3 linked regions of the Homo sapiens genome follow. The protein of the gene in region 1 purifies or fractionates together with the protein of each later gene. This does not show direct contact. Each region holds a gene or a part of one and is shown in the gene's direction. Other genes may lie near its edges. The genes, in order: MIA3, MTMR14 and SCFD1.

Region 1 (2,864 bases):
TCTGATCATACCTCACTGTGATTCTCGACATTGAAATTAAAATAATTTTAATGATTGAGAGTTTCCAACCCACTTTCCCATAGGAAGTGATTAATCAGTATCTCATAGTAGACAGTATTACTAGTGAATGAAGATGAATAGAGCTGTGCCTGTATAATTTGTGTACATAACATTGTTTCTCTTGGAAAATACTTCCAAGTTCCAGCACAGGACTCCAGGAATACACATTTCTTGAGAAATGTTTTTATCCAAGAGCAGCTTGGATAAGACCCGAGACCCCTTTGAAGTAGGAGACTTCGAAGAGTGTAGAGACTACTTTGTTAGAAAGGAGAAGCAGAGGTGGAAAGAACGTGGCCTTGGAGTCAAACCTGGCATGGAATTCCAGCCAGCCTCTTACATGCTGTGTGACCATCAGCAAATCTAATACTCTCTGCGCCTGTGTTCCTGCATATTTAGAACAAGATGGTCCTATTACAGATTTAGAGATGTCAGAATTTGTGTTAATATATGTAGGGCCTACAGAAGGTACTCTGAATAATCGCTGTTACATGGTAGAGAATGGATTTTTCATTCCCTTTCATTCTCTGCATTCTTAATATGGAAATTACTCTGATAGGAGGGATGTGCAGAGGGAGTGACTGCCTTAGAAATAGATGTATGAATGGCGTAACTTCTATCATTAGTCAGGAATGACCTCCATTTATAACCTGTGCGTTCCCTTCCATTTGCAGATGTAAGCAATAATATGATACAGCAAGTGTTCACTCCTGTGGCATACTTTTAACCTTTCTAAGCTTGTCAGTGGGAACAAATGAGAGGGGTAGAGTTTTTTGCACTAATTCTGCTCTTTGGACAAGTGCCTGACATCTGCTTCATTGGGTTTTAGTTTTTACTGGTGTTGGTGCTTTTGTCTGTCATACCATAGTATTTCAAAACTTCAATTGTTTCTACTCTGCAGGTTAATATGGCTCCAAAAGGGCCCCCTCCTTTCCCAGGAGTCCCTCTCATGAGCACCCCCATGGGAGGCCCTGTACCACCACCCATTCGATATGGACCACCACCTCAGCTCTGCGGACCTTTTGGGCCTCGGCCACTTCCTCCACCCTTTGGTAAGATGATCTGAACAGTAGTAATTGACTTGTAAAGCACATTCATCTTCTCCATCTATCCCTTGCTAAAACAACTGCAATTGCGGGGCTTTGCAATGCAGCAGTGAAGCTGATTGAGTACACCGTAACTTTTCCCCAAGTTTCTTCAGACACAAAGGGTGCTACATAATCTCCTGTGATTAGATGGGCAATAGTTGTCTCTAATAGAACAAGGAAAGGGGCTATTTATAAAAAGCCAGAAATATTCATCACATTGAACATCTGTGGCTGTGTACTAGGCTCTGCAATGGATAGCAAGGTAGATAAAATACATCCCCTAACTAAGATGTCCTGTAGGTCACAAATATACACATTCTACAACATAAAGCTTCTAATCACCCATAATGGAAGCATAAGCAGTAGGTCACAGAATATTAAGGAAAGACAAAACCCTCAACCCTCACCTTGGGAATACAAAGAAGGGAGATATGAAAGAGAAGGTAGAATTTAACAGCTATCTAATGAATGCTGCTGAATTTAATTAGATGGAGCTGGAAAGCCTTTTCCAGCAGGGCAAGCACCTTAATTTTTATGGCATTTATTAGGTACATCTTGAGCTACTGCATAAATTTTTAACTGATACACAGTAGTTAATGGAATTTATCAAAATTTTTATTGCAATGAAGCCATATTTAGTCTGTCTTCTTGGTATGGTATATAGTACTTCCAAGTACAAATCTATCTCTCTTTTTCAGATAAAGATGGCAGGCCAGGCACAGTGGCTCACGCCTGTAATCCCAGCACTTTATGAATCCCAGCATTCATTAGACGAGGCTGAGGCAGGTGGATCCCTTGAGCCTAGGAGTTTGAGACCAGCCTGGGCAACATGGTGAAACCCCCATCTCTACAAAAAATCCAAAAATTAGCTGGGAGTGGTGGCGTGCACCTGTAGTCCCAGCTACTGGGGAGTCTGAGGTGGGAGGATTGATTGAGTCCGGGAGATTGAGGCTGCAGTGAGCCATGATCACTCATTACACTCCAGCCCATGTGACAGGCAAGACCCTGCCGCCAAAAAAAAAAAAAAAAAAAAAAAAGGATGACAGACTATATTAACATACCTGGCATTATCTTAATTTAAATACGTTCCTAGGAATTTACTGGAAATAATTTTTGTTTTCCAGGCCCTGGTATGCGTCCACCACTAGGCTTAAGAGAATTTGCACCAGGCGTTCCACCAGGAAGACGGGACCTGCCTCTCCACCCTCGGGGATTTTTACCTGGACACGCACCATTTAGACCTTTAGGTTCACTTGGCCCAAGAGAGTACTTTATTCCTGGTACCCGATTACCACCCCCAACCCATGGTCCCCAGGAATACCCACCACCACCTGCTGTAAGAGACTTACTGCCGTCAGGCTCTAGAGATGAGCCTCCACCTGCCTCTCAGAGCACTAGCCAGGACTGTTCACAGGCTTTAAAACAGAGCCCATAAAACTATGACCTCTGAGGTTTCATTGGAAAGAAAGTGTACTGTGCATTATCCATTACAGTAAAGGATTTCATTGGCTTCAAAATCCAAAAGTTTATTTTAAAAGGTTTGTTGTTAGAACTAAGCTGCCTTGGCAGTGTGCATTTTTGAGCCAAACAATTCAAAAATGTCATTTCTTCCCTAAATAAAAATCACCTTTTAAGCTAGAGCGTCCTTACAACTTTGAAATGTGCAATAAAGAATACCTGTGTTTTAGCTAATGTAGCATATGTAATTGCAAAATGATT
Region 2 (3,659 bases), on another chromosome or scaffold:
TTTCACATCCTACTTAAGATATGCTTTAAGTGTAAAATACACATCAAATTTTGAAGATTTAATAGAAAAAATGTAAAATATTCATTTTAAAAGTGATTACATGTTGACATAATGTCTTGGATATGATGGGTTAAGTAAAGTATATTAAATAATTTTTCAAAACTCAGTTCAAGCATTGAACAGTAAGTTCTCATACCATTTTCTCCCCAAACACTTGAGTCTGGCTTTTAGACCATTGAAACTGGAACAATTCATCTTTCTTTTTGTTTAAGAGGTGGGGAGCAGAGGTCAGAGGTTACTAAATTAGAAAATTATACAGAGTGCTTTTCCACGGACCGTATTAGAGGCCATTCCTAACTAGGTAAATGGAGAGCATTCAGGGTAGATCTTGCGTTTTCAGTCAGGAGCCAGCTTAAAGGGCAGAGATGATGGGTTATGAGTCAGAACCATGAGGCAAAGGAACAGGTGTCTATCAAGAGGGGTCAGCCCTCCCACAGGGGCCTTCCTGAAGAGGCTGGTTCCCCACTTGGGGACTTGGCCAACTTGTTTTTCTCCATCTGACTCGGGTTTTGCTGGCCTAGGTCTGGCTGCCTCAATTACTAAAAAGACAAGGTCAATAGAAGGGATGTGGAAGAATAATTGGGAACAGAAAAAGGGTCTCAGAACTCAACAGCCAAAAAGAAGGCAGCTATCTGCTCTGAAAGATTTAACAGAAATAATGCAAAGGAGAGTGAGGTCAGCTGCCAGCAGCTTAGATGAAGCGGGGAGAGTGGATATGATACAAATGCCAGTGGAACAGGCAGCCACACACCCTGCCAACGTCTTGGAGTCTTAGAGGTCCTCAGCCCTTTCCTGTGGAAGCATCCACTTTACTCCTCACTGCTTGACTGACTTCTTAAAGCAAGGGCTTTTAACGGGGTCTGGGAATGGGTTCATCAGTGGACTTGAGAGAGTCCAGAAATCCCTGGAAATGTAAGTAGATTATGATGTGTACATATTTTTTTTTTCAGGAGATAGTTCATACTTTTTTATCAGATTTTCAAATTGCTTTTAGACCCACAGAAAGTTAAGTGGCCCCCACTGGAGTACATCCTACTTAAGCCAGCAGGAATGCCAGCCCTTGGTAGGCTTCCTCAGTAGGCTTCCAGGACAGCCTCTCCACAAACCAGCTCTTGCCCCAGCACCAATAATGCCCCTCATTCTGTCCCAGGTTATATCCAGGTAGCTTTTCTATTGCTGTCCCCACGTCCCCACCCCTTGTCTGCTGCTACCTCAGATAGAGCCAGAAAGTGACCTAGTCGTTCCCACGCACAACTCTTTGCTGTAGCAGCAAAACTTTCCTTCCCATTATCTTACAGGTAGAGATGGAGAAGCCTTCAGATGGTACTTGGCAATCTTCCAGGGATCCACTTTCCATTTGCACATTGTGTTACCCATTCAGCAGTGAGCTTCACTCCCTGTCTGTCACCTCACAACTTCGCCATTTCCCATTGTAGTGTAACAGGGTCATGTTCTCCTAGCCTTTAGCTAAATTCTGGGCTGGTTTGCCTTCCCATCACCAGGTATCTCCTCCCATTCCCCCCACCCAACTAGATTTCAGCAAACACTATTTATTTTAAACAAGTAACCTTACAATTAGATATTGAGGTTTGTGCCAGTTGCCCGTTTCTAGAATTCTCTTAACAGTGATCCCTTCAGTGATGAGGAAAAGAAGCCTCTAAAACATTTCTCACTCACCCCTTGCCCCCGCTAGAAAGGTTGTTCCTGTCTACACTGAACAGTTCCAAATCACAGTAAGCACATAGAGGTCAGTGGGTTTGGATCAAATCCCAGCTCACCCCTCATTATATGACCTTACACATCACTTAACCTCCCTTAGCCTGTTTTTCTTTTCTTCATCTGTGTAACAGCAACAATGCATGCCACCTGCCACATATCCCTCATGGGCTTGTTGTAAAATTCAGTGAGAAGATGATGGGTTTTTCAGTACCATGTCCAGCACGTGGTACACATGCAACAACCACCCAATCTGATCCGATCCTGTTGGTAACACTGGCGCCTCTTGTTTGGGAGTGAGACTCCCTCAGTAGAGGTTGTGGATTAAGTACTAGGGATCTTCTGACTGATTGTGGCAGCCTTGATGCTGATAAAACTTTGGGGAGTGCTCCTGGGCCCGTTATGCTGGCCTGGAAGAGTCAGAGGAGTCCCACATGTTCCTTCAACTGTGCATGCTTCAGAAAACCATCTGACCGTGAAAATGATGTTTCTCTCCCAGCACATTTGCAGGTCGGCCACACTGGCTGGATGGGGAGAGCTGTATGGACGCTCAGGCTACAACTATTTTTTCTCAGGTGAATGTTGAACAGCATCCTCTGATGTAGAATGAGAACCCAGTCATAGAGAATAGCTACCCGGGCCGGGCGCCATGCCTCACGCCTGTAATCTCAACACTTTGGGAGGCCAAGGCGAGCGGATCCCGAGGTCAGGAGTTCGAGACCATCCTGGCTAACACGGTGAAACCCCATCTCTACTAAAAAATACCAAAAATTTGCCGGGTGTGGTGATGCACACCTGTAGTCCCAGCTACTCAGGAGGCTGAGGCAGGAGAATCGCTTGAACCCGGGAGATGGAGGTTGCAGTGAGCCGAGATCACGCCACTGCACTCCAGCCTGGGCAACAGAGTGAGACTCCGTCTCAAAAAAAAAAAAAAAAGAATAGCCACCCATGACCACAATAGTATAGGTAGGGGGTCTGAGTGAGCTGGGTGGAGATCAGGGGCCTTCCTTTGATCAGGGACCAGGAGACAAACAGGAGTTCACCTTAGAGGTGAAGACTACCAGGCATATGGGGGCATACTGTGTCCTTAGGAGTAGAGCCATGTAGTCCCAGCCCACCCTTGGCACTATGGGGAAGGAGGCTGGTGAGGAGGCCCCTGTGTGGAGCCCTGGGTCACCAGCCTCAGTACTGACAGATAGGTTTCTCTGGCAGGGGGTGCAGATGATGCCTGGGCAGATGTGGAGGACGTCACGGAGGAGGACTGTGCTCTTCGGTCAGTGCTGGGTTGCTGTGGTCAGGGGCTTGTGTTGGGGATGGGGTGTCTGGCCAGAGATGGCCATGTTCATATTGTCCGTGGGTATTTGTCACTGGTTCAGGTGAGTGGATTGGCTTCTTCCTCTTCTGTCTGCCAAGTCTGTGCCCCTGAAATATGGCTGTTGAAGTCCACTGGGTAGCAGCCAAATACCTGAGCAGTCTGTCCCCATCTTGACTGCACACCTGGATTCACAGAGAACATCCCACTCTTGGGGTTCCTGGTACTGCAGGCCCGAGATAGGGCCCAGACATCTATATTTGTTTTAAAGCCCCACAGAGTTGCCAGTTTGCAGCTATGATGCTGATTACCAACCTGCCAGATCTCACCCAGTACAGCTGGTACTGAGGCACAGGGCAAGGGCTACAGTCCATACATAGGAGACATGAGGTCTAGCCTGGAAGGCACATTTGGAGACCAGATGTGTCACAGCTGCATGATTGGTACTACACATAAGAAGAGCTTGGTACAGAACAGGAGTTTGAGTCCCTATAAAAGGAGGAAATGGGCTGGTTCACACTCTTGCTATCCGCTTTCCAAATGTTTTTAGAAAACAATACTACAGGATATT
Region 3 (3,175 bases), on another chromosome or scaffold:
ACTCATCCTTTTTTATGGCTGCATAGTATTCCATGGTGTATATGTGCCACATTTTCTTAATCCAGTCTATCATTGATGGACATTTGGGTTGGTTCCAAGTCTTTGCTGTTGTGAATAGTGCCGCAATAAACATACCTGTGCATGTGTCTTTATAGCAGCATGATTTATAATCCTTTGGGTATATACCCAGTAATGGGATGGCTGGGTCAAATGGTATTTCTAGTTCTACATCCTTGAGGAATCGCCACACTGTCTTCCCCAATGGTTGAACTAGTTTACAGTCCCACCAACAGTGTAAAAGTGTTCCTATTTCTCCACATCCTCTCCAGCACCTGTTGTTCCCTGACTTTTTAATGATTGCCATTCTAACTGGTGTGAGATGTATCTCATTGTGGTTTTGATTTGCATTTCTCTGATGGCCAGTGATGATGAGCACTTTTTCATGTGTCTGTTGGCTGCATAAATGTCTTCTTTTTAGAAGTATCTGTTCATATCCTTCGCCCACTTTTTGATGGGGTTGCTTTTTTCTTGTAAAGTTGAGTTCTTTGTAGATTCTGGATATTAGCCCTTTGTCAGATGAGTAGATTGCAAAAATTTTCTCCCATTCTTTAGGTTGCCTGTTCACTCTGATGGTAGTTTCTTTTGCTGTGCAGAAGCTCCTTAGTTTAGTTAGATCCCATTTGTCAATTTTGGCTTTTGTTGCCATTGCTTTTGGTGTTTTAGACATGAAGTCCTTGCCCATGTCTATGTCCTGAATGGTATTGCCTAGGTTTTCTTCTAGGGTTTTTATGGTTTTAGGTCTAACATTTAAGTCTTTAATCCATCTTGAATTAATTTTTGTATAGGGTGTAAGGAAGGGATCCAGTTTCAGCTTTCTACATATGGCTAGCCAGTTTTCCCAGCACCATTTATTAAATAGGGAACCCATTCCCCATTTCTTGTTTTTGTCAGGTTTGTCAAAGATCAGATGGTTGTAGATGTGTGGTATTATATCTGAGGGCTCTGTTCTGTTCCACTGGTCTATATCTCTGTTTTGGTACCAGTACCATGCTGTTTTGGTTACTGTAGCCTTGTAGTATAGTTTGAAGTCAGGTAGTGTGATGCCTCCAGCTTTGTTCTTTTTGCTTAGGATTGACTTGGCAATGCAGGCTCTTTTTTGGTTCCATATGAACTTTAAAGTAGTTTTTTCCAATTCTGTGAAGAAAGTCATTGGTAGCTTGATGGGGATGGCATTGAATCTATAAATTACCTTGGGCAGTATGGCCATTTTCAGGATAATTGATTCTTCCTATCCATGGGCATGGAATGTTCTTCCATTTGTTTGTGTCCTCTTTTACTTCGTTGAGCAGTGGTTTGTAGTTCTCCTTGAAGAGGTCCTTCACATCCCTTGTAAGTTGGATTCCTAGGTATTTTATTCTCTTTGAAGCAATTGTGAATGGGAGTTCACTCATGATTTGGCTCTCTGTTTGTCTATTATTGATGTTTGGGAATGCTTGTGATTTTTGCACATTGATTTTTGTATCCTGAGACTTTGCTGAAGTTGCTTATCTGCTTAAGGAGATTTTGGGCTGAGATAATGGGGTTTTCTAGATATACAATCATGTCATCTGCAAACAGGGACAATTTGACTTCCTCTTTTCCTAATTGAATACCCTGTATTTCTTTCTCCTGCCTGATTGCCCTGGCCAGAACTTCCAACACTATGTTGAATAGGAGAGGTGAGAGAGGGCATCCCTGTCTTGTGCCAGTTTTCAAAGGGAATGCTTCCAGTTTTTGCCCATTCAGTATGATATTGGCTGTGGGCTTGTCATAAATAGCTCTTATTATTTTGAGATACGTCCCATCAATACCTAATTCATTGAGAGTTTTTAGCATGAAGGGCTGTTGAATTTTGTCAAAGACAAAAGGCATTTTCTTAAGTTCATTTTTGGATTCCTCATTCCAAGTGCATAAAAATCCAACCGATTTTTATGTTGATCTTACGTTTCACAGCCTTGCTGAGTTTATTAGTTCCAATTGTTTTTAATGGATTTTTAGAAGTTTCTATATACAAGATCATGTTATCTATTAATAGAGATAGTTTTGCTTCTTTTCTATCTTCTGCAACTGCCCTGGCTAGAACCTTCAGTACATTGTTGAATAGAAGAGGCAAGAGCAGACATCCTTGTCTTCTTTCTCATCATACGGGCAAAGCATCTAGTCTTTGACCATTATATATTTTATTACATTATTCATAGATGCCCTTTAGATCCATTAAATTTTTAGTAGCTACTAAGCTCCCCAGTTTATTGTCCTGAGAGGATTTTTAAATCCCTTTTAGTTTTTTTGTCCTGAATAATCCTAATCTTTTCCCTACCATTCAGCCCTATTAAGAAGGAACTGAGCTAGGTCTATGACAGCCTTCCTCACATCATTAGAAACCTGTGTCAGTACAGTCTCGTAGTATGAAACTAAACATGCGACTATGCCTACATGAGACTGGCAATACAGAATTAACTAACATGGCCCTTGGTTTATACTAGTCCACAACATAAGGGGCAAGTGCCAGAAAATACTGCTGTAATTCTGATTTATTTAGTAATGTTGTTAATCTAACTCACAATGTAAATGCTATTTGGTATAACTTTGGTATAATTGGTAAAAAATAATTTGACTGATTTTATCAAAACATTTGATAATACTAATATTGATGAATTGGGAACTTGACTTAAAACCACAAGGTATTCTCTTGATGGAAGGTGATTGGTTAGAGAAAGAACTACACTGAGTTAATTTTACATTGAATCAATATACTGGTACATTTTATAAAGTTCGATTTTTTTTTCTTTTTTTTTTTTTGAGACAGAGTCTCATTCTCTCACCCAGGCTGGAGTGCAGTGGCGCAGTCTTGGCTCACTGCAACCTCTGCCTCCCGAGTTCAATCAATCAGTTCTCCTGCCTTAGCCTCCTGGGTAGCTGGGATTACAGGCATGCGCCACCACACCTGGCTAATTTTTGTATTTTTAGTAGAGATGGGGTTTCACCATGCTGGCCAGGCTGGTCTCGAACTCCTGACCTTGTGATCCACTTGCCTCGGCCTCCCAAAGTGCTGAGATTACAGGCATGAGCCACTGCGCCCAGCCCATAAAGTTCAATTTTTAACTGACAGAGTAAGTAAAGGGGTCATCAAGCTTGT

The links.
Region 2: the proteins of MIA3 (region 1) and MTMR14 purify together in Homo sapiens (affinity purification with mass spectrometry, with the first as the bait; one large-scale study listed by BioGRID). This does not show direct contact.
Region 3: the proteins of MIA3 (region 1) and SCFD1 purify together in Homo sapiens (affinity purification with western blotting, with the first as the bait; one study listed by BioGRID). This does not show direct contact.

Annotation. Positions count from the first base shown.
Region 1 is NC_000001.11:222,663,040-222,665,903, forward strand, and holds part of MIA3 (transport and Golgi organization protein 1 homolog isoform 1 precursor), read left to right. Parts: intron 1-958; coding exon 959-1,109; intron 1,110-2,269; coding exon 2,270-2,580; 3' UTR 2,581-2,864.
Region 2 is NC_000003.12:9,666,444-9,670,102, forward strand, and holds part of MTMR14 (phosphatidylinositol-3,5-bisphosphate 3-phosphatase MTMR14), read left to right. Parts: intron 1-2,275; coding exon 2,276-2,351; intron 2,352-2,988; coding exon 2,989-3,049; intron 3,050-3,659. UniProt on the Homo sapiens protein: Lipid phosphatase that specifically dephosphorylates the D-3 position of phosphatidylinositol 3-phosphate and phosphatidylinositol 3,5-bisphosphate, generating phosphatidylinositol and phosphatidylinositol 5-phosphate.
Region 3 is NC_000014.9:30,730,186-30,733,360, forward strand, and holds part of SCFD1 (sec1 family domain-containing protein 1), read left to right. Parts: intron 1-3,175. UniProt on the Homo sapiens protein: Plays a role in SNARE-pin assembly and Golgi-to-ER retrograde transport via its interaction with COG4. Involved in vesicular transport between the endoplasmic reticulum and the Golgi.